Linked DNA regions of Homo sapiens: region 2 is linked to region 1. The links come from fine-mapping of genetic effects on gene expression. A gene starts in region 1. The other region holds a variant in brackets. All regions are shown on one strand. Distances are between the middles of the regions.

Region 1 (12,447 bases):
TGTGTGTAGAGCCAAAGTAATTTTGTGGAACAATTAAAAGTTTTGTTTAAGCCAAGTGGTTTTTTTTTTTTTTTAGCTGGGCAAATCATTTTAATGTGTAACAGTAGGCCAACTGGGGAGGACAAGACCCCAAGCCCCAGCCTTTCTCCTGATGCCCTGGGACCTGTGTGCCTGGGCCAGTCCCATGCCTGCCCCAAGCCCTGAGGCCCACAAGTCCCAGAGAAGAGTGGGAAAGAAAGTTGGGTGGTTGCAGCTCAGCCCCAAGAGTTCAGGGAGGGAAAAACAGGGGCTAGTTGAATTTAGCCTTGGAAAAATCCATCTCCGGATGCTGATCCATGAACTTCTTCAGAATCTCCTGTTTCTTCTGTTCGTCTGAGGTTGGCAGCCCCATGGACTTCTGTTACTGGTCATAGATTGTCTTTTCCACCATGATGTGAGTCTCACTGTCCAGGTCTGACAGCTTGGAATTCTCAGGGTTAATCTTCTTGGTATTGATCTCAGGGTCACTGGACACCAAGCGGCTCCACCACTCCATCTTCTTGATCTTCTCCAGATGCACAGTCACCACCTTGCCGTCCTCAATGAGCCACGAGCTCTCCTCCGCCTTCACTTCGTTGTAGAGCTCCCCATCGATGATCGCTGGCTGCCCCTTGAGCCCCACCTGGAGGTGCCGCCGTTGGATGCCACCACCACGTCCTTCCCTTTCAGCTGGAAGTCCACACAGAAAGGGACCGCCAGGTCCAGCTCCGACAGGGTCTTGGTCCAGCGGTAATCAGGCAGGTCTGCCCTGTTGCCTAGGTTGGGCTTCAGTTTTCCTTTGTCCTTCTCATCTTCCTCCTCCTCATCTTCCTCAGTCTTCTGCTTCCCTGGGGAGTCAAGGCTGCCATTCTTGATCTGGGCCTCATGATTCTCTGCATCCTATTTCTGGTCAATCTCTAGCTGCAGCCTCTCTGCCTCTTCATCAGTTAGCTCCTTGATCTGGGGCCCTGAGGTCTCTGACTTCAGCCAAGTGATTTTTGATATCTATCCTTATTCAAAGTTTGGATATACTACCAATGTATTTCAAACATATCTAGCAAATTACACTAGTAAAATACAACCTCAATGTTTTAAGCATTCTTTGTAATGAAGTTTATATACCTAAAGTATTTAATGAAAACACTGAAATATATTAGGATTATTATACTGACCGTGTAGTAATTTCTTTGAGTAATGTTGATACTTCCACTTCATGTTTGGTTACTATACCAAATGAAGCTTTCACTGCAATGGAATCTGATCCAGCAACGTTAATCCCAACGTCATTTACAATATGGTTACCTCGCCTTCCATAGAGTGAAACATCTGATTCATCTTCATAATTCAGTAATTGATAAGATGAAATACCTTTATAAGAAGAAACTCAGTATTTTTTAAACATCTTTATCTTATGTAGATTATATATAGTAACATGTTAAATTAACAATTGAAGACTCAAATACCCAAATGTTAGAGAAAGGCAACATGACTCACCAAGACTTAAAGTAGTAATTCAATTAATCTTACAACAAAAAGAAACACATAGCCAGAATTCTTAAAAGGAACTCAAATTTTCTATTCAGCCAACAGAACTTCTTAAGCATCAAGATCCACCGGGCAATTAAAAGAAAAAATAAGCGTTTATAAGTAGTAACTCATCAAAATATCAGCTTATTATATAACCTACCCTTCAATACATTTCAGTTTACCAATTGTAATAATTGAATTGTAAAAAATAAATACAAATTATTTTCATCTCATTTGACCATGTAACATAGGTAAGCCCAAATAATATCCCATTTTATAGATGAAGAAATATGTCATATTCTAAGTTGATTTGGTTAAAACAATTTATAAAATAATTGATAGATTTGAAAATTATTTGACCAATAAGAGATTTGATATTATACAAACTTTTGGCATTGTTAATCTTAATAATGTTATTACACTAACATCATAATAAAAGTTGCTTTAATCATTGAAAATGTGTATTACTAACATAAGTAGCATATATGACCTATGTTTAGGTTGCCAATAATACAGATGAATGAGTTGGCACTCCCAAACATTTAAACTTACCAGCTGAAATTTCTCTGTCTCCTAGGAGAATATCTTTCAGTGTAAAAGGTGTTGAAGTAAATTTATATCTAGGAAACAGAAAGCATCGCTTCTTTTTTACCACCAGACTTAGAGGTTGATATTTGTCAGCTTCACTGAGGCTTGGAACAGGAACTAATCTCCCTCCATCTCCAACTTGCTTGACAAAGCTCTTGGTAGCAGCAGCAAACATATTAAAATCAAAACGTCATCAACTGCAACCCCCAGATAAATCCATTTTTAAAGAGGAAAATCAGGCACAAAATTAAGCATTGCTTGTTTTTAAATATAATTATACATCTTAAAAATACAAAGCATGGTTTCACCAAGTAGTTTACCACTGTATAATTCCCTGCCTCTGCTCATGTGCTCAGGTAATGAATTATAGATCAACGGTGTAAAATGATATGCTAAGAGCATGTTTAACTTGGAATGGCAGGCTATAGCACTAAAATATACACAGAAAACTAATAACGTAAAAATATGACCAATGTCTATGATAAGGATCACAGTAGATAGTGATTTGCCACTGGCAATGGGCCAATTTTAAGGGAAGCATATAGTGCTGTGGGAAGCAATGCAATTTAGGCACTAACGATAGTCCCGGATACAATCTACAGTGGACCTAGTCCAAAGGGAATTCCTTCACAAGTCCACCACCGGAATTTTGGCAACACCAAAGTGCTGTTTTGAATCCTCATGGCATACAGCTCATTGATTGAGCATTTCATTCATTTTCCATCTTATATGCTTACAAAACTGTGTTTAATATTAAATATAAATTCACAGATATAAACAATTATATGCAAATCTTTATTTAAAAAATAAAGCCACATTACATATAAGTAACTATATAAACTATTACCTAGTGGTTTCTTACTCTGAAGTTGGGCACACAGACTCTCTCTCTTTGAAATGGAGTCCTGCTGCATCTTTTTGTTTCATTATTATCCCAGCTACTTAACCTTTAACAAGAGCTATATAAAGTTCTGGCCTGTTTTTAAGTAATTTTGTGGCAAAAAATGAATTTTACCTGAGTGCTGAAATGTTTTGCCATAGGTGTTATGCGGAGTTCATATATTGTGAAATACTGACTATGTAGCCCTTCCAATAAGATATCCATTAAAACAGTGATGGATAGTAATCTATATACATACATATATAGACGGAGAGGAAGAGAGAATAGGCTCTAATTAAAGCATCAGATGATATAATTTGATTAGATTCTGAACATCTTTCACTTGTTTCAAGCATCCAGGGCTTACATGCTAACAAAACAACAAATCGCTTTTTTTTTTTTTTTTTTTTTTGAGAGGGAGTCTGACTCTGTCGCCCAGGCTGGAGTGCAGTGGCGCGATCTCGGCTCACTGCAACATTTGCCTCCCGGGTTCAAGCGATTCTCCTGCTTTAGCCTCCCGAGTAGCTGGGATTACAGGCGCATGCCACCACGCCCGGCTAATTTTTGTATTTTTAGTAGAGACAGGGTTTCACCATGTTGGCCAGGCTGGTCTCGAACTGCTTACTTCAGGCGATCCGCCAGCCTCGGCCTCCTAAAGTGCTGGGATTACAGGCGTGAGCCACCGCGCCCGCCCATAAATCACTTTTAATAATATCCTTTCGTACGAATAGCATTGTGCAAGCAATCTTCCATAACACCGAGTAAGCACAGGGGAGCATTTCTGCTAGTGCCTAGCAAGCCCCTGGAGAAGCGACACGTCATCTAATGGCCCACCAAAGGTGCTGCATCCCAGGCAAACGCCATTACAACCGACTACCCAGGTCCCCGGAAAGGCCTTCGTTTACTCCTAACGTGTTTTGCTGGGATGCACTGACCCAGCGTTCCATCTCGCGACGAAAGCCCAGAAGACAAAGGAGCCCGCCCGGCGGGAGAGGAGCGGGTGTTTGGACGTCCCCGCGTGTTCCTAAACACAGGGCTCGGGGACCCGAAGAGCGCACCGCAGCCCCCTGGAGCGTATATATCCGGGGTCTCAAGCTTCAGGACCAGGCCCGGGAGACTCCCTGGAATTCTGCCTTCGTAATTTTAGAATCTTTTTCTTAAAGTGACCCAGCCCCCAATCCGTCCTCCCCACAAAGGCTTAACTTTAGGCCTCAACGACCCTAGACCCACGCCGGACAATCCCTCTAATCCCTCTCTCCCGGCAAGAAACGGCCTCCTGCTAAGGACAAAGAACTGCGGCCTAGGGGCCAGTTACTACAGGCTGGTCAGGGCCGGCAGGGGCGGGCGCGGAGAACCCCCGGGAGCCCAATGCCTGTGCCCACGCGGGAGCGGGGCGGAGCCGGGCGGGAAGGGGGCGGACCCTGGAAGGGACAGGGGCGGAGTTGGGCCGGGACGGAGGCCCGCAGAGGAGCAGCGAGGGGGCGTAGCCGGAGCTACGGCACCAAGGCTCCGCCCCCACCCTGCCTGCCCCCTCGCTGGAGCAACGCAAGCAGGAGGCGGGGGAGTCGGAGGAGGTGGCGGCGCTGGAGCTCCTCCCGGGGACCAGCGACCCGGGGAGCGAGCACGTCGCTCCGCACCGCTCTTCCTCCAGCCGCTGAGCCGTCCCTTCTCGCCATGTCCCAGAGCAGGCACCGCGCCGAGGCCCCGCCGCTGGAGCGCGAGGACAGTGGGACCTTCAGGTCAGCGTGCGGGCAGTCAGGGCCCCAGGGCCGGGAGCGTTGGGCGGCAGGGCCGGGGCGCGGGGAGCCGGCCCTCCAGAGGCATTCTGGGTAAAGCCGTGCCCGGCGCCCACGCCTCCGCGGCTGTGGGTGCTCGGCCCCGCCCTCTCGGCGGCGAGGGTTGGGGTCTGCGGCCGGGCCCCGCCCCTCTCGTGGTCCCTGGCGGCGCGCGGGGCGGGCGGAGGTGACGCTCGGTCGGCGCGCCCGGGAAGGGATCGTCAGGTTTTCCCTGAGAGGCTGCGGCGCTGCTGCCAGCCCTGTTCTGTTGAGAATCTCTCCTACCCGCATTCAAGTGCTCTCTCTAAAGACCTCGCTCACCCCGCCTGCTCCTGCGGAGTGACTGCCGCAGCGGGGCCGGAAGACAGGTGCGCCCCAGCCTCGCCAGCTCTGGCCCTGGCCTCCGGGGAACTCGGCGCCTCCCTCGTCACCGTCGGTGGCGGTTAAAACTGGCCTCTACGCTTCTGCTTCAATCTCCAATTTGGCATGCAAAGCACACCTTTTTGTGGTTTTTGCAGTTTGGGGAAGATGATAACAGCTAAGCCAGGGAAAACACCGATTCAGGTATTACACGAATACGGCATGAAGACCAAGAACATCCCAGTTTATGAATGTGAAAGATCTGATGTGCAAATACACGTGCCCACTTTCACCTTCAGAGTAACCGTTGGTGACATAACCTGCACAGGTCTGTATACACAGTTAACCTGGATGACCGAGTGGGTTGGCAGTCAATACTTGGTGTTGCTTTTCAGTTCGGAAAAGTTCTCTTTTTGCCAGACAGCTGTGAGGAACAGGCTCTGAAACTGAGACCTCTCATCTCAGGTCGTTAGGGCTTTTCAGCTGCATCTGATTCTCTTCCTAATTTTCTCTTCCCCACATACCAAGGAAGCTTAGAAACTAAAAAGTTACCCAGCCGGATGGCTGGATCCTGCATGGCTCTTCTCATACCCTAGGATCCTCCTAGGGTTCTTCTTAGAATTAGAGGGAAGCAGGAAAGGTTCTTGGAGCAGTCATAGCTGGGTCAGTAGGTACTGTGAAGTTTCATAGATTATAGCGGATGCCAGGAGGCATGACCCCAGAATTTTCTGAGCGTCTCTCCTCTCTGTATGGACTCATTTGGCACTTTAGGTCCATTGTGCTACTTTTGATTCTGTATCCAAACAAAATGAGGAAGGGGAGAAGGTCCTCATATATTACATAATAACTTCTAGTTTTTGAAACTGAACAGATATTTTGTATATTATCCACTTTTTAAACAAGAAGAAACAGGTTCAGAGAGATTATAAGTAACATGCGTATAGCAATGAAGTCACAAAGCAATGAAATTTTAAAGTTCATGCTTTCTTTTGGTCTGTGAGCTTGAGCAAATGATAACTAAAGTTGCTCATTTGTAAATGTGGACATTATTTTTCTTATGTATCTATTTAATTGCAAACACAGAAAACATTGGATGCTAAATTTAATTTGGAAGAATGCCAAGAAAAAAATTTAGTAGGAAGGCTCAAGTTCTACCATCTGGAAAATCTGAAGACAGCATTTGTTTGTGTCCCTGGAAGTTTGGAGTCTTTTATTTTAATTGATGCCACTTTAAGAAAAGTTTAAAACTTTTTGTGTGAGGCAGTTAGATTGTAGGTGCTGGCCGGAAGGGTCCCCATGGGAACCATAGAGTCAACACTGCATTACTTACTTTAGCTAGTCTATTTCTAGATAGGAAGAATTCAAGAAAAGGGAGGGTTTTTCCCTCTCAATGTGTTTTAGACCCCAAATTAACAACCTATGGCAACCGTTCTGCCTACGCCCTCTTCTCACACTACCATGGCTTCCTGTGCAAGCTTATCTGCCTCCATGGCTTCTGATACTGTCTAAAGACTAATATTCTGAAATGTCTGTCTACATCCCAAGCCCAGTTACAGAATAGTGTATCAGTCTGTGCTTGCTGAGCATCTTTGCCTGGATGACACAGAGGCCCCTCAAGCCTCTCATTGTCCCAAACTGAATCCATCTTTTCCCTCAAACCCATTCTTCTTGCATTCCCTTTCTATGTAAAGGCTCCACAATCACCTAGTTCAGTAGAAATGTAGGCTTTTGTCTTCCTAACTACTTCCCGTCTTTCTCCCTCTTGTCCAGTCTGTTATTAAACTCTATCCATTGGCGTTTAATAATCCACTAACTATCCATTGAATCTGTCGGCTTCTCTCTTCTGGCCATTGCTACTGCCTAGGCCACCATCATCTCTCACTTGGATTGTAGCTGCAGTCTTGTAGCTACACGTTTACCTTCTAGTCTTGTGATGTCCTTTTGTCACATTACAACCAGTGTTCATTCTTTTTTTTTTGAGACAGGGTCTCACTCTGTCACCCAGGCTAGAGTGCAGTGGCATGATCTTGGCTCACTGCAACCTCCGCTACAGCCTGCACTTAGGCTTGTTGTAACATATCCCATTCCATACTTCAGGTGCCTATTAACAGACAAAAATCCCACACTACTCTGTTGGCTCTTGAGGGCAGGGACCCTGTATGCTATATCCCTAATACCTGTGTTAGCAGATAAATATATGGTTTCTGTGTCTTCTTACACTTGAGGGCCACACTTGAAGGCCACACTTGAAACTTATTCCATGAGGGTATGGGAGTTTGAACTTAAAAGGAAAAAGATGGAATTTATCATTTGCCATTGTGATTGCTTACTGAAATTAGACATCAGTCTTATCCCCAGTCCCAACTTAGCTACCCATGCAGAAGATACAGACCGTCCAGAAGATACATAACAAGCTGTCACCTTATTCCATAAAACTCTTTCCTGTTGTACCCAACACATAATCATGACTGCTCAGCCTAGCAAAGCAGTTTGATACGTTATAGGACAGGCTGTCAGAATAAAATTATGCACATTTTGCTATCAAACAATTCTGCTGTAAATGGTTCCTTTAAAAGAAACTTCTTGCTGCAGAAGAATTTCCCCTCCAGGAATAAAGGAAGAGTAAAATACTAATCTGCATTTCTTCAGAGGTGTGACACGGTCTACTTTATTACCATGTTATATAATAAACATATATAATGTAGAAATAAGGATTTTTATGCAGGTATGCATAGAATTATATAGAACTTTAAAAAGTTATTTTTTAAAATTTTTTCACATGGTGAATATTTTATTACAGTATATAACCATGTAGTATATAACATGTACATATTTTTATGTACAGTATATAACGTACATATTTTTATTACCTAGTATGTGTATGTAAAATCTATAGTGACTTTGTTTTGTGTATTGAAAACATCTTTGTAAGCTGCACATTTTTGTGGGAGATAAAGACTTCTTTTTTTAAATCTTAATTCAGGTGAAGGTACAAGTAAGAAGCTGGCGAAACATAGAGCTGCAGAGGCTGCCATAAACATTTTGAAAGCCAATGCAAGTATTTGGTGAGCTAAATTTCTTTGTATTCAGCAGCTCAAAAATATCATGGCTGAGGTAAGATTAAAAATTTGAACATGCTTACAAAAGCAACAAAGTGAACAGTTGTTAGCATCCTACCTCTCAAATTCTATTTCCTTATGAAAACTTATCATCCATTAAAGAAAACTTTATCCAATCAAATCCAGCAATTAGCTATTAAATGAAGGTGCTCATGAACTAGGCTTTACTGTTTTTTTTTTTTTAATGGGATACAACAGTAGAAAATCAGTGCTTCTTGCAAATATTAATATTAACATTTTGTATTTAGACTTTGATTATTTCTACATTGAAGAAAACAAAGTGTGAGATGGAGAAAGATCCACTAAAAGTACTCTTTTGGGAATTCTAATTTTGAAGAAGCAGGCAGAGGTTTTCTTTTATTATATAATGTATACCAAAAGAAGAGAATGTTAAGTGGGATATTAATTCTTGACATATCTTTCTAAAGTAAGATTTTTTTTTTTTTTTTTTTTTTTTTGAGACGGAGTCTCGCTCTGTCGCCCAGTCTGGAGTGCAGTGGCGGGATCTCGGCTCACTGCAAGCTCCGCCTCCCGGGTTCACGCCATTCTCCTGCCTCAGCCTCCCAAGTAGCTGGGACTACAGGCGCCCGCCACTACGCCCAGCTAATTTTTTGTATTTTTAGTAGAGACGGGGTTTCACCGTTTTAGCCGGGATGGTCTCGATCTCCTGACCTCGTGATCCGCCAGCCTCGGCCTCCCAAAGTGCTGGGATAGATTTTTTACTACTTTAGGTGTTTCTAGATAGAATATTGGTCCTGGAGCATCTCACATATTAAAGTAGTGTCCACTGGGTGCACTCTGGAGCTTGGCATGCTTTCAAGTTCTTCTTGTGCATACACTTACATATGCCTGAAGTACGATCTGTGTAATCAGCTTATAGTTGACAGTAGAGACCCAGGGAATTTGGGATGGGTTTTTTGTTCCCTAGTCATAGAAAGGCTTTTGGATTAGGGGTGTAGTTAGGTTCTCATGTAGTATTCCTCTCTTTTTGTAAATCATTCTAAACCGTTTGGGTAGTTTAGAACTAACCAGTGACATGGCAACCCTCTAGATAAGCAGCTGCCCAAGACAAGCCTTGCATTTCACAAGATGATGCTTGATTCTCTAGGGTCATGCATTATAATTGATCTATGCCAGGCTGGGCGGGGTGGCTCACGCCTGTAATCCCAGCACTTTGGGAGGCTGAGGTGGGTGGATCACTTGAGGCCAGGAGTTCAAGACCAGCCTGGCCAACATGGCAAAACCCTGTCTCTACTAAAAATACAAAAATTAGCCAGGCATGGTGGCAGGCGCCTGTAATCCCAGCTACTTGGGTGGCTGAGGCACAAAAATCGCTTGAACCCGGGAGGCGGAGATTGCAGTAAGCTAAGATTGTGCCCCTGCACTCCAGCCTGTGAAACCCTGCCTCAAAGAAAAACAAGGCCAGGCATGGTGGCTCACACCTGTAATCCCAGCACTTTGGGAGGCCAAGGTGGGCAGATCACTTGAGTCAGGAGTTCGAGACCAGCCTGGCCAACATGGTGAAACCTCGTCTCTACTAAAAATACAAAAAATTAGCCGAGTGTGGTGGCACGCTCCTGTAATCCCAGCTGCTTGGGAGGCTGAGACACGAGAATTCCTTGGACCCAGTAGGCAGTGGTTGCAGTGAGCTGGGATCGCGCCATTGCACTCCAGCCTGGGCGACAGAGCAAGACTCTGTCTCCAAACAAACAAAAAAAAGACATGCCAAATGACATGGCAGGTATTGGGTTCTCCCCCACTGGTGATGGCCATGCTGTTTCTGTATAGCCTGAAGGTGAACCCAACCATTAAGTACATTTGTAGAAATGAGGGGTATGGAGTGTCCTTTCTGCATCTTGGCACTTTGTCAGCAAAAAAAGCTAACAAACTTTACTATATTTGTGCTTCTTGACAGATAAAATGGGAATTACTAAGCTGTAATCAGGCCTAAAGTGGCCTGACTTAATACAGAGACTTTCTCACTTCTCCATCACAATTATTTGGGTAGCTTCGGCATGCAGCATTGTAAGTGAATACTCATATCTCATCAGCCTATGTAAAGCTTGAAATTCTCACAGTTGGAAAAAAAAAACCTTGAGGAAGTGGCAATAACTAAACCTCATTTGTCATGGAAAAATGACTCCAGTTGCCTAGGTGGTACTAACCTTGAAATGCCGCTTATTCAGTTTTAAGTACTGACCTGCTAAGTAACTAGTAATTCCAGACTCCCTAGAAGAGGTTGTTCTCTTTTTCCCTAATCATAATCCCCACTTGCTAAAACCAAATTCATCTAAGCCATCTATTTTCTGCAGGATACATGTAAATCTTAGAGGATTATCCCAGCACTGAGCAGATGATAGATCAAACAGATCTCTCTTCATAGTTCTGTGGATGAAAAAACAGTATTTACACATAATCTGTATTATTCACATTGCCAGGCTAAATTTTCTGGATCATTGTTACTCTTCTGTTTTTTGTATAGTTGTAACAGAGTATTCTTTAAATACATTTTTATGGCATGCCTATTATGTACAAAACACCACAAAGCTTATGTAGGTAAGTGATACATAGGCCCTACCTCAAGGAGCTTACTGTCTGAACAGGGGAGAGGTGTGGTGAAGGATGGACAAATTATATGTATTTGTAAGAGTATATAATTTATGGTAAAACAATTTCAAGAAAGGATTAAACCATGTGTTATAATGTTTCAAAGAAGGGAGAGATTATAAACCACTGGGGTAAAAGGATAGGCTTCTTGGAGGAAGTGACATTTGAGATATATCTTGGATGACCGATCAGATTCCCATAGAAGAGGTCTGAGAAAAGGGCATTCCATGTAGAAGGAATGACAAGAGCAAAGACATAGAGAGTTAATTAGAAAATGCTTGTCATTTATTTCATAATTCGGGGGAAATTATTTTGTTTTATAACACTTTTAAAAAATATTTAGCTTTGCAGTTCCTGACCCCTTAATGCCTGACCCTTCCAAGCAACCAAAGAACCAGCTTAATCCTATTGGTTCATTACAGGTAAGTTGTACAGTTCTTTGCCTACTGATGAAATATATAATAAGTTTGTAATGTCAGAGGGGCTAACACAAGGAATTAATATTTTAAAGACAAGATAGTGATATATTTTGTTTTCCAACTTACGATCATTAGATTAACAGAGCTAACTTGAAATTATTTTCCTATTTATGTTCTGGGTTTTCTTTCATATACAGTATTTGCCTTTGGCTTATAGAATTCTCATTTAAGATCAACAGGCCCTCAGTGCACATGGGTAAAGTGTTTTATACTTTAAGAATAGTTCTTGCTACTCTTGTGACAAATCTCTTTCTACTTCTGTTGAGACAGAAGACTTTATAGAGAGCCTAAATCAAATCAGTGAACCTAACTGAAGAAAAGGAGTCTATTTGCTTATTCTACCAAAAAAAAAAAATTTTATCTATACACACACAAACACACACACATATATTCAGCTTTGAATTTCTATATGCAGAATATCCTTCTTGCAGATTATCCATGTGCTCTGTTAGGCCATTTCCCTCCCCATTATTCAGCCAGTCCTTTGGTCTCCTTTTCCTGCACAGTGAGCTTTTCTATAGTTTTCTTCACCTTCTGTCCCCCACTTTATGCAAGTCTGTTGTTTGCTGTCCCTACTCCTCATGTGTTCTTGGCCAGCTGTGGGTTTGGAAGTCTATAGCTAGGAGGGGAGGGACTTTAGGAACTGATGGCAGTGAAACCTGTAGATGGTCTCCTCTGGTGTTGCCAAAGAGGGCGGTAGTAGCCTGTTTTTCTAGTTGATGTCTGATACCAGCTCACTGTGGTTTAATGCAAGAACACCATTCGTAGCACAAAACTGCTTCAGTTTTGGTATTGGGGTATAAAAATATAAAATGCGGGAATGTCTTTGAGAAATAGAGGGTCTTCCCTCTTTTTTCTGTTGCAGAATATCACTATTCTTTTCAAACATATACATAGAAATGGGATCAAAATTAAGAAAACACTTATGTGATTGAGCCATTGCATAAAATTACTATTAAAGCCTCATCTTGATTTTATAGGAATTGGCTATTCATCATGGCTGGAGACTTCCTGAATATACCCTTTCCCAGGAGGGAGGACCTGCTCATAAGAGAGAATATACTACAATTTGCAGGCTAGAGTCATTTATGGAA
Region 2 (16,964 bases), 30 kb after region 1:
AGAACCTTCTAAGGCTACAGAAGTGCCCCTCTCTTCTCTAATAAGGGCTAGTGTGCTCCCTCTTTTGCTTGAAGACAATGAGCTCTCTCTCCAAGGACAAAACATACACTCCTCAGGATCCTCCCCAACTTCCTCTCTTGGCAACTAAGCCAATTAAAAAAAAGTTAAACTGGCGGGGTGCAGTGGCTCATGACTATAAATTTAGTACTTTGGAAGGCCGAGGAGGGTGGATTCCCTGAGGCCAGTAGTTCAAGACCAGCCTGGCCAACATGGTGAAACCCTGTCTCTACTAAAAATACAAACATTAGCCGGGCAAGGTGGTGCGCGCCTGTAATCCAGTTACTCGGGAGGCTGAGGCAAAAGAATTGCTTGAACCCAGGAGATGGAGGTTGCCATGAGTAGAGATTGTGCCACTGCACTCCAGCCTGGGCTAAAGAGGGAGACTCTGTCTCAAAAATAAATAAATAAATAAATAAATAAAAATAAAAAATAATCATGACCCCTTGTCCGATTTCCAGACCTGAGTCCGTTTTTGGATCCAGGCCCATTAACTAAAGAAGAATCTGGGTCCCCAGGAGGAAGGATTGTGTAATACCACAAGTGTGCACAATAATGATTCCTCTAGTCCTTCTCCAAAGGGACCTATCACCATTACTCAGGAAATCATACAGTGGTGAAAGGGGAATACTCAACATTTTGATATCTGTTGGAAACAGGGTCTGAGTTAACAATGATATCACAGAACTCTCACTATATGCCCTTGATTAGAGTAAGGGTTATGGAGGCCAAGTCCTAGGGTGTCCTGGCCCAAGTCTGGCTCACAATATATCCACAGACCCACCTAGTCCTTGAGTGTATAATTGTGATAAATACACTTGATTAGTGGCACCAGGTTTCTCGGTGTGTGTGGTAAGAGCTAACATAGTGATAAAGGCCAAGTGGCCAGGTGGAAGCTTTAAAAATTGACCTCTTCTCCATACCAATACAGTAAATCAAAAAATAATATTTCAGGGAATGGCAGAAATTAATGCCATCCTAAAAGACCTAAAAGATTCGGGGATGATGGTTCAAATTGTATCTCCATTTAATTTACCAGTCTAGCCCCTCCAAAAACCAGATAGTGGGCTACCACAAACTTTATGAGGTAGTAGCTCCAATTGTACCTACAGAGACAGCTACAGGCATCTTTGTTAGAGCAGACCCACATGGCATCAGGTGGACTTCTAGTTCAAAAATGGCAGTGTAGACGCAAGCTGGCTTCACTTCCACACCAGAAAACCAAAAACAAATATACAGCACTGAGATTATCACCAACAATATCCCAGAACTCAGATATGAGGATGAGTCAATTCCTGGGGACACAGAAGTGAAAAAACTCTGAGCATGGTAAAAGAATCAGATTTTTATATCTGTGGTGCCCCTTGCCACAATCTGTCCAGCACCAAGTGTGTGGAAAACTTTCCCCAACTCACAGTTTCTACAATGGAAAAAGTGAGATCAAGGTAGACAACCAACCTCCCTACCATCCTGGATTCCCTGGAAAGAGACCTGTCCCTGACTCACCCCATGGGAAGTATCATGAGTACCTTGAGGGAAAAACATTACCGAGGACAACCAGAGACAAAGGGAGGAGGCAGGACTTCAATCCCCAGCCCTGGAAACTCTGCTCTGTAACTTGATCAAAGAAGATGCCAGATCAGAGTGGTTACTCAGCAGCACCAGCTGTAGGAGATGCATTCCACAGATCCTCTTGGCACAAACCTTTAGCCGGCCTTTCACACTGCCAGGATATCCGCTTTGGGACCTCCCCCATTTGAGAAGGGCATCACTCTGATGAGTTTCTAGAGTGGAGGCAAACCTGGGCTTAAGGTGCCATCAAGTTCCAAAAGGGAGACAGTGACCTAGTGGGAAAATAAGAAATTTAACAGATAAGTCACAAAGAATCTCTAAGCAAACATCCCCGACAGAAAACAAAACAATCAAGACAGAGAAGACTGGAATAAATAATCCTTCAATGCAAAGATATGGACGTACATCCACAAGAAAAACAACAGCAATAGGGAACCATGACCTCCCCAAATGAATAAAGCAAGGAACAAGTGTCTGAATCTAAGAAAATGGTGATATGTGAGCTCTCTGACCAAGAATTCAAAATAGCAGTTTTAAGGAAACTCAGTAACCCCCAAGATAACACAGACAAGCAATCTATAAGTTTATCAGAGAAATTTAACAGATTAAAATAATTTTAAAAAAGCAAAATTCTCATTACTGAGAAATATATTTGCTGAACTAAAAAAAAATTAGATGAACCACAGAATGGATCAAGGAGAAGAAAAAGTCAGTGAGCTCAAAGACAGGCCATTTGAAATTACACAGTGAGGGGGAGAAAAGAAAAAAGAATGAAAAAGAATGAAGATCACTTACAAGATATAGAAAATTATCTCAAAAGACCAAATCGAAGAATAACTAGTGTTCAAGAAAAAGTTGAGCAACAGCAAGGGGTAGAAAGCTTATTCAAAGAAATAATAAAATTTTTTTCCCAAAACTTAAGAAAGATATAAATATCCAGGTATGCAGGTCAGAGAACACTAAACAGATTCGACCCAGATAAGACTACCCGTAGGCATAGTCGAACTCTCAAAGGGCAAGGACAAAGAAAGGGTCCTAAAAGCAGCAAGAGAAAAGAAGCAAATAACATAAATTCCAATTCATCTGGCAACAGACTTCTCAACAGAAACCATACAGGCCAGGAGCAAATGGGATGAAATTTTCAGTGTTGAAAGAAAAAAATGTCTGCCACACAAGAATACTGTATCCAGCAAAGCTATCCTTCAACCATCAAAGCAAGATAAAGTCTTTCCCAGATAAACAAAAGCTGAGAGAATTCACCACCATGAGGCCCATCTTAAAAGAAATGCTAAAGGGAGTTCTTCAATCCACAAGAAAAAAAAAAAAAACACCAATGTGCAAAAACAAAAACATTTGAAGGTATAAAACCCACTGATGAAATTAAGTACAAAGACAATCCCCAAATACTTCAATACTGAAATTGTGGTGTGTAATCCACTTATAACTCTAGTATGAAGACCAAAAGACAAACCTACCAAAAACAATAACAGCTACAGCAACCTGTTAAGAGATAAGCAATATAAAAATATGTAAATTGAGACAAACAAAAGTCAAAATGTAGAAGGGATGGAGTTAAGGTATAAAGGCTTTTTTTTTTAGTTTTTTCTTTTCTTTTTTTTTTTTTTTAATCTAAGATAAGTTGTCATCTCTTTAAGATGACTTGGTATATCTATGTTTTATGTAAGCCTCATGGTAACCACAATGTAAAAACCTATAATAGACACACTAAAAATGAAAAGCAACAAATTAAAACATACTCCAGAGAAAATCACTTAACCACAAAGGAAGACAATAAGAAAGGAAGAGAGGAATTATAAAACAACAATTAGAAAACAAGCACAAAATGACAGTAGTAAGTCCTTACTTGTCAATAATAACACTGAATGTAAGGGGACTCAATTCTCCAATTAAAAGGCTGAACTGATAAAGAAACAAGCCCTTAACTATATGCTGCTAACAAGAAACTTACCTCCCCTGTAATGACACACATAGACGGAAAGTGAAGGGATGGAAAAAAAAATCTATGCAAGTAGAAATCAAAAAAGATCAAGAATAACTATACTCACATCAGATAAAATGGACTACAAGTCAAAGACTATAAAAAGAGACAAAGAAGGTCACTATATAATGACAAAAGAGTGAATTCAGCAAGAGGATATAATAATTTATATATCTACGCACCCAACACTGGAGCACTCAATTATACAAAGCAAACATTAATAGATCTAAAGGGAGAGATAAACTGCAATACAGTAATATTAGGGGACTTCAACACCCCATTCTCAGTAACAGATAAATCATCCAGACAGAAAATCCACAAAGAAACTTTGGAGTTAAACTACATACTAGATCAAATAGGCCTAACTGACATTTACAGAATATTTCACCCAACAGCTACAGAGTGCAATGGTGTGATCTTGGCTCACCGCAACCTCTGTCTCCCGAGTTCAAGCAATTCTCCTGCCTCAGCCTCCCAAGTAGCTGGGATTACAGGCATGCACCCCCATGCCCAGTTAATTTTTGTATTTTTAGTAGAGATGGGGTTTCTCCATGTTGGTCAGGCTGGTCTCGAACTCCCGACCTCAGGTGATCCACGCACCTCAGCCTCCCAAAGTGCTGAGATTATAGGCGTGAGCCACCATGCCCAGCCCAGAAGACACATTCTTTTCTCATTATCCAGAACAGACCATATTTCAAACAAGTCTCAACAGATTCAAAAAAGTAGAAATCACAACATGGCACCACGTATACAATATGCAGCTGTTGATCTGACAAATGCATCCTTTCTATATTAGAAAAGAGGATCAGAAACACATTACCTTGGATCAGACAATAGTGAACATGTATAATCTTCTTAGAAGCATGTTAACTCTTCCAGCTTTTATCATAATATAGTCTGAAGGACCAAGACCAGCTGGGCATCTTGCAGAACATCACTGATTCACTATATCAATTATACCATGTTAACTGGACCAGAAGAGCAAGAAGTAGATAATATATTGGAGCTACCGCACATATACTCCGAAGGTGAGAGACAAACCCTACAAAGATTCAAGGAACTTCTACTGGTGGCTCTCTAGTGGGTCCACAGTCCAGGGCATGCCAAGATATGCCTTCCAAAATAAGCAACAAATTATTGCATTTTGTACCTCTCACCATAAAGAAGGTAGCATAAAAGAATGATAGGTTTCTATGGGTTCTAGAGGCAGCATATGCCATAGCAGGAAATACTTGCTGTTACCTATACACTGGATGACATAAAAGGCTTCCAATTTCAAGTGGGACCCAGAGCAGAAAAGGGCTCTGAAGCAGGTCCAGGTGGCAGTTTTACCACTTTGCCATACCACCCAGCAGATGCTGTTGTATTAGATATATAGGAAAAGATTCTGTGTGGAGTTTATGATAAGTCCTAATGGGAAAATCACAATGCAGACCCAAGAGTCTGGCCATGCTATCTGTAGCAGAGAAGTAAACACCTTTCAACAAACAGCTGCTGATGTGCTGCTGGGCTTTTATAGAGATATAGCACCAGACAAAGGGATGTCAAGTAGCCATGAAGCCAAGAACAATGATCATGAGCTGGGTTCTATACATGTAGAACACAAACATAGGCAAAGGGCACAGTATGTTACATTAGCAAGCAGCCTAGACTCCCATGTCTCTACCACTGTTGCACCAGTGTCTCTCCCTTGGCTTACATTTATTGTCACTGATCCCATATGACGAGCTGATGAAAGAGGAAAATGCATGAATTTGACTCACAAATGGGTATATTTTGGCAAACAAAATAGATGGTGTCTATAGTACTGTGCCACTCAGGGGTGGCCCTGAAAGTCAATGGTAAGGGAAAATCCTCCCAAAGGGCAGACCTTCGGGCAGTATACTTTGCTGTCCATTTGTGTAGAAAGGGTCTCAAGGTTAGAATATACATGGGTAGTGGCAACTGGCTTGGTCATGGGATCAGGGTCCTGAAAATAGACTAAACTACTGGGAACAAAGAGATTTTGAGATAAAAATGGTGGATTGGGCACATGAGAGTGGGCACAAAGCGTTAGGAGCTTTGTACTGCGTTTGATCTATACTACAAAGTATCCATAATGGAAAAGGCCCTGAACAACCAAGTCAGTATCAGGACTTGGCTGGTTAATAACATCCAGCATCTGGCATTGGAATAACTACTGTGGCAGGATTGGAGGCTATGTAACAGACCTAACAGGATGCGCTCCTATACACTGAGGCTGATCTAGTTATATTCACTGCTGAATTTTCAGCCTGCTAACAACAGAGACCAATGCTGCAATGCTGAGTGCCTATTCCTCAAGAAGACCAATCAGTCACTTGGTGGCAAGCTGACTTACAATAATGATCCTAACAAGACGCAGTGACTCATTTTGACAGGAATAGACACATATTCTAAATGATTCTCCTTTTCTATCTGCAGGGCATTGGCCAGCATCACTGAGGGCTTTCAGAGAGTTTGAACTACCTCATGGGACCTGTTTTATAGCAAAGGAGGAAAGAGTGGGCAAACGACCACAGCCTCTGCTTGTCTTATTATTACATGCTGCATCACCCAGAAGCCTCTACCCTGATAGAATGAATAATTAACTTGTTGAAGGCATACCTAACACGAACACCATCCTTTAAGATGAAGTGGACACTTTAATGGTCTTTATGTAGGGCTGTGTTCTTAACAGGTAGAATACATGGGTCCAGGAATCAAGAGGTAGAAGCAGGAATGGCCCTGCTTTCTATCATTCCCAGTGATTCTCTTGGGGGAAATTGTGCTTCCTGGCTCCACAACACTGGGTCCTGTCATTTAGAGGTCCTGCTTCCTAAAGGTGAAACACCTCCACCAGCAGATGTAGTTTATAGTTCAGTGAGACCCAAGAAGAGACTCATCAGTTTCATTGAATTATAAGCTACATCTGCGGGCTAGGTACTTCAGGTTCCTTGTACCAAGAAAGTAGCAGGCAAAAAGAGGAGTCACATCCTGGCAGGGATAATGGATCTTATCATAAAGAGGAGGTAGGACCACGGTTACAGTTGGAGGAAGGAGGAAAATGTTGGTAACCAAGCACTGCACGTATGCACCTCTTGGTATGCTCTTGCCCAATTCTGATTGTAAACGGACAGTGTAGCAGCCATTATGAGCCTAAAAAGATTATAGGGACCGGGGACTCTGAGCCTCTAAGGATCAAGGACTGAGTTTTATCACCAGGTAAGTCACTGAGACCAGCTGAGAGTGTCACTGCATCCAAGGTCACCCCCATCTTTGGGTTCCTTGCATCCAGTGACTGGGCAACAAAGTCCTGACCTTCTTGCTCCAATATGGGACATCAAAAGGGCCAACCAGCTTTAGAGTTTCCCATGGGGTCAGCTGAGAACACTGTTGACACTGTATCACAACCCAAGTCCTCCTTCCACCCAATCCTGATTTCTTTCCATTCCTTCCACGGATGATGATCACAAAAGCATTCCCTAATAAACCTTCTGCCTACTGTCTCCTGAGTCTGCTCCCTGAGAGTCCCACCTGAGATATGGAGTTATAGTTTAGTGAAAAAAGATGATAAGAATATCATATAAATCACATAATTTAAGATATATAAAATTACAAGTCAGCATTGGAGATACTCTGGATTCTCTTCAGATCATATATCTTTTGCCTTTTATTAGAATTTCTAGAGAGAGGATAAATTATGAGTTTGTAGCCAGTTTTTTCTTTGCTTTTTATTTTTGGCAGGGTTGCTATGGTTTGGATATGGTTTGTTTGTCCCTTCTCCTGCAAATCTCATGTTGAAATTTGATTCCCAGTGTGGTGGTGTTGGAAGATGGGGTCCAATGGAAGGTGTTTGGATCATGGGGGTGGATCCCATATGAATAGATTTATGCCTTCCCTTAAGGATGAGTGAGTTCTCACGCTATTAAATCCCAAAAGAGCTGGTTGTTAAAAAGAACCTGGCACCTCTTCCCCACCCCTGCTTCCTCTTCCCCAGCCCTGCTTCCTCTCTTGCATGTGATCTCTGCACACACCAGTTTCCCTTTACCTTTGCCATGAGTGGAAGCAGCCTAAGGCCCTCACCAGATGCAGAAGCCCAATCTTGAACTTTCCAGCCATCTAAAATCAGGAGCCAAATAATTTTTTTCTTTATAAATTACCCAGTCTCAGGTATTCCTTTAAAGCAACACTAAACAAACTAAGACAAGGTTTCTGTAGAGAGTGTGTGTATGTGCCGCGACAAAAAATATTTGCATTTTCAAAAGATTTCTTTCAACATTATCCAAAACAGTATGTAGGAAATGAAATAGAAATTATGCTAATTTGAGGACAATGTCCACTGTGAGTAATGCTGCATCTAGAATAACACTGCATCTCAAGGTCCAAAGAAGTTAAAAAACATGAAACAGCCCATATTGTAATATGAGTTCTAAAAAGGATAGTTTCGTGGAAGTTTCAGAGTATTATAACTAAGCAGCAGCTCTTACTACATTGAAAAAATGAATTTAAGGCAATAAATTATAGCTTTACCTGAAAAATTGTAAACTTGTGGAAATTACTGAAGATGTGGTCTACTCAGAACATTTACAAGCTTGACAACATATTCAGAATTACCAGCTTGACAGTATATTGAGATAGCAGATCATGATGGCTTTCTGCCACAAATACAGCTGATATCAAAAAGGAGACGATAACAATAAGCTAAGTCTTAAATTTCTTGTACTTAATTTATCATTTTCTGATTTCCTCATTTCCCTCAATAATTTTTTTAGATTAAGACTTATCAAAAAGGCCATCTGCAGAGAACAGTGTGTAATGAAGATCTGATAGCTATTCAGTCAATTTGAATATTAGAGAGGGTGAAGTAGATGGATTGGAATATGTGGGTTTTTTTTGCTTCACTGCTTGGGCTGGGGCAAGAGTGGGACATCGTGGAGAGAAGACCTGAATAAACTAGTTTTTCTTTCTATGCTGATCTGAGTGAATGGATAGCTGCCACATGTTTATAGCATTCTGTGCTAATAGATACAGTAGAGGTTTGAAAAATATTTACATATATCTCACCAAAAAA[AAGAG/G]GCAGAAGACAGAGGCAAACTGTTTTCAAGTATATGAGCTAAAACCAAAGAAAGGCTTGGACTTACAGATGTCTCCAGTCATAATTTTTTAAAATAAGATGAACAATTGGAGCACATTTAGATGGCAGATTAAGAATTAGATAGTATAGTAAATGCTGGGTTCTATTACAAATATTTACATTCTTATTTATGAGCTTGTGCTTTCATTCTAGTGCAATCTCCGTTATGGCCAGATGGGTGTGTTACTGCACAGGATTTATTTGAAATTCAGAAACTGACAGTACCTGTGCCTGATTGCTTGGTTTATTTTATTCATTTTATCTCATATTTCTAGTTAAGAAAGGTAGTTTTAATGGCAAAAGAAAGCAGGCTAAGGATTTAATATTTTGTTCATGCACTTAATAAAGGACTTAAGCAAATGCTTTGTTTTTATTTGTTAATAGTAGGACAGTAATAAAAATTAGTGTTAATAAAGATCAACTCACATGATGGGACTTTTGCTTTGAAACACTGGGCTAGGAACAAATTCATACTGAGCTTTAGGATTTTAAAGAATAATTTAGCTAGACTTTATTAAGGATTGACTATGTTACCTACACTGGACAAAACATTTTACATACATATATAAAGCCATTTTTCTAAGAAGCTGTACAGAACAATAATTAAGTGAGCATCTCTAAAGACAGACTGCCTGGGTTTGAATTCAAGCTCCATCACAGGTAAACGGCTGTGTGATTTGGGGCAAGTTGCTTAACCTTTCAGTTCCTCAGTTTCCTCATCTCTAATTTAAGGGTAACTGACTTCTGCTTCCAAACATGATATAATAACATGTGTGGGCTAGCCCTCCTTTCACTGTAAACAACTTTAAAACTGGACAAAAGACAGAAGGCAGCTCCTTTCAGACATTGTATATGATAAAGAAAAAAATTACTCAATGAGGCAAGGTACAGTGACTCACTCCTGTAATCCCAGCACTGTAGGAGATTGGGGCAGGAGGATTGCTTGAAATCAGGAGTTTGAGATCAGTCTGGGCAAATAGTGAGATCCGCATCTCTATAAAAATAAAAATAATTTAAAATATTAGCTGGGTTTGATGGTACCCTCCTGTAGTCCTGGCTACTTGGGAGGCTAAGGTGGGAGAATCACTTGAGCCCAGGAGTTTGAGGCTGCAGTGAGCTATGATTGTGCCACTGCACTCCAGCCTGGTGACAGAGCAAGACCCTGTCTCCTGAAAAAAAAAAAAAAAAAATTTTTAAATGATACTTGTTAAAGCACAATAAGGCAGATTTTAGGACTATCTCAAAAGGTATAGGGACCGTTACAATGGGATTCTGCAGTAGGGGAGAGAGGTTAGGTTCAGCTATGAATATAGCATGGGCAAGAGGGAATTTATAGCCAAGGGGCAAGGTAGTGGCAGTGGATAGACAATTACTAAGAGGAAACATCAAGGGTAAGGGGAATTCTGCCTAAACCAACCAATCTAACAGGATTCTTGCGAAGTCAGACCAGATTAATCAGATGTCACCTGTGGGATGGTAGAGGCTGAGGAACCCAATCAGATATCAAGGGTGATCAGATATCAAAGGTGGGGATTCTTGCTAACCCAACTAAGCAGCGTTCTTGCTACAACTGGCTTTTACATGGAAGTGCACAGATGGGCTTAGTAGAAGGCTCAGGAGCCTGATTAAAGTTTGGGGCCAAGCAAAGAATCTTAGACAACAGCACAGATTGCTAACCTGAGAGAGGGGAAACACATGAGATGATCCCCCTGGTGGCCCTAGATTTCTGCTCAAGAGCCCATTTTGGACTGCAGAATGGAAAAGTGAAGTCCAGAGAGACCTCAGGGATGCTGAATTGCCTAGAGTAAGTAGGGTAGAGTACCTGAGGATAAGGAGTGGTGTAGAGAAGGAACTACAGAATCCTGCATAGGGATTCCCCTGAAGTCTTTAGCCAAATACAAAGCTGTGCATGTGCAGAGTAAGACTCTGTGAGGGCCAGCAGAGAACAGTTACCACTGATGAGTGACAAGCTGAGTCAAGATTCCACAAGTCCTCCAGTGTTGGAAAACACAGGTGATCAGCACTGTCCAGCAATATATATTCTGAATATGTGTCACGTTTTCCTGCTTTTCTGATTCTCTTATATTTTGATAGATTATATGCTGGACATTACAGATTCTACATTGCTGTGAATCAAGATTTTGTTGTCTTCCTTTAAAGAGTATTGAGTTTTTTTCTCACAGACAGTTAATTTAGTGATGGATCACATTGATTCTTATAGGAGGGGTATTTTAAAAGCTTTGTTAGCATGGGTTTAAAGTAGCGCCTTCCTAGAGACTAAAGCACCCCTATTCTTCAAGTATGACTCTTTCCACAGCATTGCAAGTCACGAAACCCGCCCAGATTCAAGAGGTGGGCCCAACTTTTCACGGGTAGAGTTAAAAAAAATCACATTGCAAAGGGTCTGCCTACAGGGAAGTATTGGAGACATTCTTGCAATGGATCTACCACAGTTCATTTCAATCTGTTTCTTCTCCACTACCCGCATATTTCTGATGCCAAGCAATAGGTCACATTCATATCATAGTGTGACCTCTGGCCCTGCTTTTATATGTAGGGTGTATGTGAACCCGCATAGTCACTAGTAGGAGTATTCCTAGAAACCATTCCAGTAGTGGTATGACCATTACTTAACTATACATGGATGTGACTACAAACCACATACATATATCCCATTAAACCCAAACTCAATGTAGTCTCAACTCAATTTATCCCTTGGCCAAATCCCAGAAATGCCCGTGATCACTCCAAAACTTTAAAGTCGGGGGTTGTGCCTAGCCAGAGCAAGGAAGAGTATTGGGATGGGAGACAAGAGGGAAGTCAGAGTGGGAAGAGACAGCAGGTCTAACTGTCAAGGGCCGAGCTTAGTTCCAGAGAGTTGAGGTGCCAGAAGTCAGAAAAGCAGTGAAGACAATAAGCCAATATGAAAGGAAGGGTCAAGGCTTTAATCCCATGCTGTGATAGAATGGCACCAATCCAGGGTCAGGTGGATCAGCACAGCTTTGCTGAGAGAACCCTTGAACAAAAGGCTCCTGCAGTTTTATGGACCCAGGGCCTGGGATGAGGAGAAGGTGAAGGACTTAGAGTGGAAAAGTACTCAGTACTGAGTCCGAGTGGGGAAAAGTGTCTTCAAGCTTCCTCCTGTCCTCCAATAAGGAGATGTCTGCAGGAGTCCCTGAGGAAGCTCTCCCTCTACATAGAGACCTCCAAATGGACCCCATAATGACTTGGTCACTCTGAGTCATTGTTCTCTGGCATCCTTAATTCCAATATTCTTCACATCACATGAACTCTTTGAGCCTCAGTTTCCTTACCAGTAAAATGGGGATAAACTGCTCTACCTTCCTCTCAGGTTAGAAAGATGAAATGAGATAATAAATGTGCAAATGCTTTGAAAACCTTGAAGATGCACAAATGTAAGCCATTTTCTCCTTAAAAAGTTATGAAATTGAGGTGGCCAACTCTAATATAAAATTCCCTCTGTAACATTTCAACTTAACAGGCTTTAAGGGATCAGCTAAGTAAAAAGCAAATGTTTTACCCAAGCACAGGATTCCAAGGTTATTTATGGCATTCTCTGAATCTCTGTAGTACTTCCTATTGTTACAATCTGTCCTGCATTGTCTGATGATGGCCTTTTATCTTAAATGAGGCTGAGACTTTTTGTTACTATTACATCGGCACTGTCTGAAAAAATATAATGCAAACCATATACATAATTTAAACATTTCTAGTAGCCACACTCTTTGAGAAAAGAAACTGATTGAATTATATTCTATTTAACCTAATATGTCAAAAACATTATCATTTTAACATGTAATAAATATAAAAATTATTAAGATATTTTACATTCTTTTTTACATACTATGTCTCTGAAATCCAGCCTATATTTTATATTTTACATTTACAGTACATGTCTTTTTTTCCTTTTTTTCTTGGAGACAGAGTCTTGCACTGTTGCCTAGACTGGAGTGCAGTGGTGCGATCTCAGCTCACTGCAACCTCTGCCTCCTGGGTTCAAGCAATTCTCCCATCTCAGCCACCCACGCTCAGCTAATTTTTGTATTTTTAGTAGAGACAGGGTTTTGCCATGTTGGCCAGGCTGGTCTCAAACTCCTGGCCTTAAGTGATCCGCCCACCTTGGCCTGGCCTAGCTGTCACTGACTTTGTAAGGAGTTTCTGCAAATGCTTCTTCAGACTTTTCCCACGTTTTTTAAAACCCCTATTTATATTACTACTTAATGGCAATTTCTTCCACGGTCACAGAGAACACAAAGACCTTTGATTTGCTCTTTCCACCACAGAATATCACTCTAGGAAAGCATTCCATCATAATGTATATAAGGTGCCTAAACTGTGCTATAATCTTAAGCATTACAGGGACTCAGAATGAGGTCGTTAAAGCAGTGTTTTCCAAAGCGTGTTCCGCTGACCTAATCCCATACTCAGCGTATGCAACTTGATATTTTAATTTGTACCCTAGTGATCTAGTCTTATGCCTTCTGGGTACATATTGCATCATATCTTTAAACACATCCAGCTTCTAGAATGGTGCTGTACACGCAGGAGGTCGTTGAGCTTCACCTTCCTGCTAATGACAAAATCAGCAATTGCCTTTAACCACAGGAACTTCAGCCCGTTGGTCACTAGGGGGAGACACACACGTGGTGGGCCTCTCCAGGCTCCTCAAATCCCGCCAGAGTCGCCACTGTGTAGTCTGCCCAGAGAAACCACACCCAGTCTTAGGAAGAGGAAACTGACTGCCATCCATTTCACGCTACTGTGGCCGGCGAGCTCAGAGTGGAATCATTTGCAAGGCAGCTCCTCCAAGAATAACCAAGCCGAGATCTAGCTGATCAACGATTGAATTTAGAGTAAAACTTGACAGAATAAAACTCCCTTCGGTTTGTCCGTACTACCTGGGTTTGCAGAAATGCTTTTCCTTAGCATTTAATTTTGGGACCTGTAAATATAACTGCTTTTTAGATGCATTCCATAATCCTCAATTAACTTACTGCAGTAAAAAGATAATTAGGTTAATATAAACTGCTCCAAGGGGTTTCTGATCAGACTGAATTTTATTTCATTTGAAATAAGGTCGTTGTTTAATCTTGCAAGTTAAATAATCTTGATTTTACGCTGAATAGGGGCCTGAGATAGATGAAAGAAAATTTCCTTTTCATACATGTGAGAAATAAACTGTTTCTTACACTCATATTCACAAGTGTGACCGTTAGTCCAAGTTGAGGCAATTAACATATTTAGGAAGAAAAAAACTTCCTCACAGAAGGATTGGCATTGGCCCTTCTGAACAGTATTGCAAAGTCTGAAGGAAAAACCCTATTGACACCACTTTCTAGCCAAATGCTATAGGACGATATCAATACTTACTGTACTGAGTGGGCATTTATTTAGTTATTTCACAGTGAAGATATCTTTTCTGGAAAATTCCTCATAAGAAAACTGAAATTCAAGCTCCTGCTCGTTCTTCAGCCACCGCTACTCGTTCCTGCTTTTTGTGCCCATAGGTTCTTCTGCCCAAAACAAAAGCTGTTAAATCACCGCGGCGGCGCTGACGTCAGGGAGCAGGGCCGCGAGGCCCCACCAGGTCGCCAATGAAGCCTCCCCTCGGCTCTGCCGGGGGCTTTGCGGGGCGCATAGAGGCTCCCAGGCGGATAGAGGCTCCCAGGCGGAGGAGTCCGGGAACCCCTAAAGACCCTTTAGGAAGCAAGGTCCGGAAAACCAAGCACGAGCAAGAGGCCCCGGGCGGCTGTATCCCTGCCCGGCGAATTCAGAGGGAGCGGGCGCCGCGGCCACCCAAGAGCAACGAAGACGGCGGCGCGGAGGAGAGGATGGGGAGGGGTGTGGGCCGCCCAGAGGCGCGGAAGCTGGGAGCACCGCGCGGCTTAGGAACTAAAATAAATGCTTGTCTGAATCTGCCCCGGGTGGGGGATGAAGGAACAAGGGCTTGGGAGGAGACCGATACATTTTAGAAATTGCCGGTGGGGGAGCCAGGGGCGGTGGCTCACGCCTGTAATCCCAGCACTTTGGGAGGCGTAAGGCGGGCTGATCACCTGAGGTCGGTAGTTCGAGAGAGACCATCCTGACCAATATGGAGAAAGAAACCCCATCTCCACTAAAAATACAAAATTAGCCGGGTGTGGTGGTGCATGCCTGTAATCCCAGCTACTAGGGAGGCTGAGACAGGAGAATCGCTTGAACCCGGGAGGCGGAGGTTGTAGTGAGCCAAGATCATGTCACTGGATGTTATTTGTTAATTTTTTGATGTACACTGCAAGATCACACAAGAAATGAAGCTATTAAGCCCAGGTATTGGGCCTTTTATAGGGGTGTTTTTTCATGGTGAATGGGTAAATATGTCTCTACTTTGTGTGCTTATTAAACAACCCTGACTATGTGGTCTTGAAAGGAGAGATCCTGCCTTAGTTTCGCCTCTCATTAGCCTTATGTGAGAGCTTTTTTTCAGAGACAGGCAACCAGGAATATTTATTCCAGAAGCAGTCATTGCAGTGGAGAATTTGGGGTTTGAATCATAGAAGACAGAACTAGATAAAATCCTAGATGTTACCTCCAATCCCTTCATTTAAAAATTTGAGGTCACCCAGGCCAGGTGCAGTGTCTCACGCCTGTAATCTCAGCACTTTGGGAAGCAGAGGCAGGTGGATCACCTGAGGTTAGGAGTTCGAGACCAGCCTGGCCAACATGATGAAACCCCGTCTCTAATAAAAATACAAAAACTAGCTGGGTGTGATGGTGCACACATGTAATCCCAGCTACTAGGGAGGCTGAGGCAGGAGAATTGCTTGAACCCGGGAGGCGGGGATTGCAGTGAGCCCAGATGGCGCCACTGCACTCCAGCCTGGGCGACAGCGCGAGACTCTGTCTCAAAAAAAAAAAAACAACAACAAAATTGAGGTTACCCAAATTAAGAGAATTGGTAGTTAAGACAGACCAAGATTAATAACTTTTAGACATTTGTAGACCCTAGTTATTGGGGGTGCTAGACTCTTAACACTTTTCCAAGAAAAGGGGTAAATCTTGTGTTTCTTAATTCGGAAGGAAAAAAAAAATCTACCACTTGCAATTTGGCATGGGCCAGAGGCAATATTATCAGTTATATGCCTCTACGGTGTGATATTGAGTGATATACATGGAGAGAATATGGGCTACATTTTATGGTTTACTGTTTTGGGGAAATGAGGCCTTTGACATGCAGGGTAATTATTGCTGGGGACTCTGCTCAATAGGAGGCCATCACCTGGGCCCCATGCCAAAGGGAAAGCTTGTAAATTCCACTTCCCTGGAAGGCTGATAACGTGTAATAATCATGACATGGATTACTTGGTCCTGTTGGGTCCCAGCTTGTGAGATTCTTTCTGATCAAAGTTACCATCATGGGCAAACTGTGGTTAAATAGGCTTTAATCTCTGTGTTCATAAAGTTCTATTATCCTGGTCCAAGAGATTGGCAGTCTATAACTTCCTTTTTTTTTTTTTTAACACAAACATGAAATTAACACTTTTTGCTCTAAACTAATTAAAGATTCACGGGAAGTTGCAAAGGTAGTATGGAGATGTCCCTGTACCTTTCACCAAGTCCTTCAGTGGTTACATCTTACATAAATATAGTGCAATATCAAAACAAGGAAATTAACAATGGTACAACATGGATATAGATGTCATTTTTTTATTTAAAAATTTTACTTGTGGTAAAGTACACATAACATAAAATTTACCATCCTAGGCTGGGCATGGTGGCTCATGCCTGTAATCCCAGCAATTTAGGAGGCCAAGGTGGGGGCAGATCATGAGGTCAGGAGTTCGAGACCAGCCTGACCAACATGGTGAAACCCCATCTCTACTAAAAATACAAAAATTAGCTGGGCATGGTGGTGCTCACCTATAGTCCCAGCTACTCAGGAGGCTGAGGCAGGAGAATGGCTAGAACCCGGGAGGCGGAGGTTGCAGTGAGCTGATATTACTCCGTTGCACTCCAGCCTGGGCGACAGAGTGAGACTCCATCTCGAAAAAAAAAAAAAAAAATACCATCCTATTTTTAGGTGCACAGTTCAGTAGTGTCAAGTACATTCACTTTGTTGTGCACCCAATCTCCAGAACTCTTTCTCTTGCAAAATTGCAACTGTGTATGTACCTTTTAAATACTAATGTCCCATTTTCTACT

What was found. PIP is the estimated chance that this variant, and not a neighbour inherited with it, causes the effect.
Region 2: its variant is fine-mapped to the expression of PJVK in whole blood (TOPMed, PIP 0.97).

What each region holds. Positions count from the first base shown.
Region 1 is chr2:178,443,271-178,455,717 of GRCh38, reverse strand. PJVK (pejvakin) reads right to left here and starts at 4,340. Exons shown (of 7, transcript NM_001042702.5): 1 at 3,949-4,340; 2 at 2,098-2,330; 3 at 1,191-1,386. The coding sequence starts at 2,308. PRKRA (protein activator of interferon induced protein kinase EIF2AK2) reads left to right here and starts at 4,543. Exons shown (of 8, transcript NM_003690.5): 1 at 4,543-4,752; 2 at 5,307-5,476; 3 at 8,132-8,213; 4 at 11,218-11,296; 5 at 12,334-12,447. The coding sequence starts at 4,688. It also overlaps the pseudogene NUDCP2. RefSeq lists a silencer at 4,271-5,050 and an enhancer at 4,813-5,387.
Region 2 is chr2:178,411,303-178,428,266 of GRCh38, reverse strand. It overlaps CHROMR (cholesterol induced regulator of metabolism RNA), which reads right to left and starts at 14,608. Exons shown (of 5, transcript NR_110204.1): 1 at 14,154-14,608; 2 at 1,606-1,901. RefSeq lists enhancers at 13,117-13,691, 13,479-13,738, 14,240-14,439, 14,269-14,844. The variant AAGAG/G (reference allele first, on the strand shown) is at 8,700.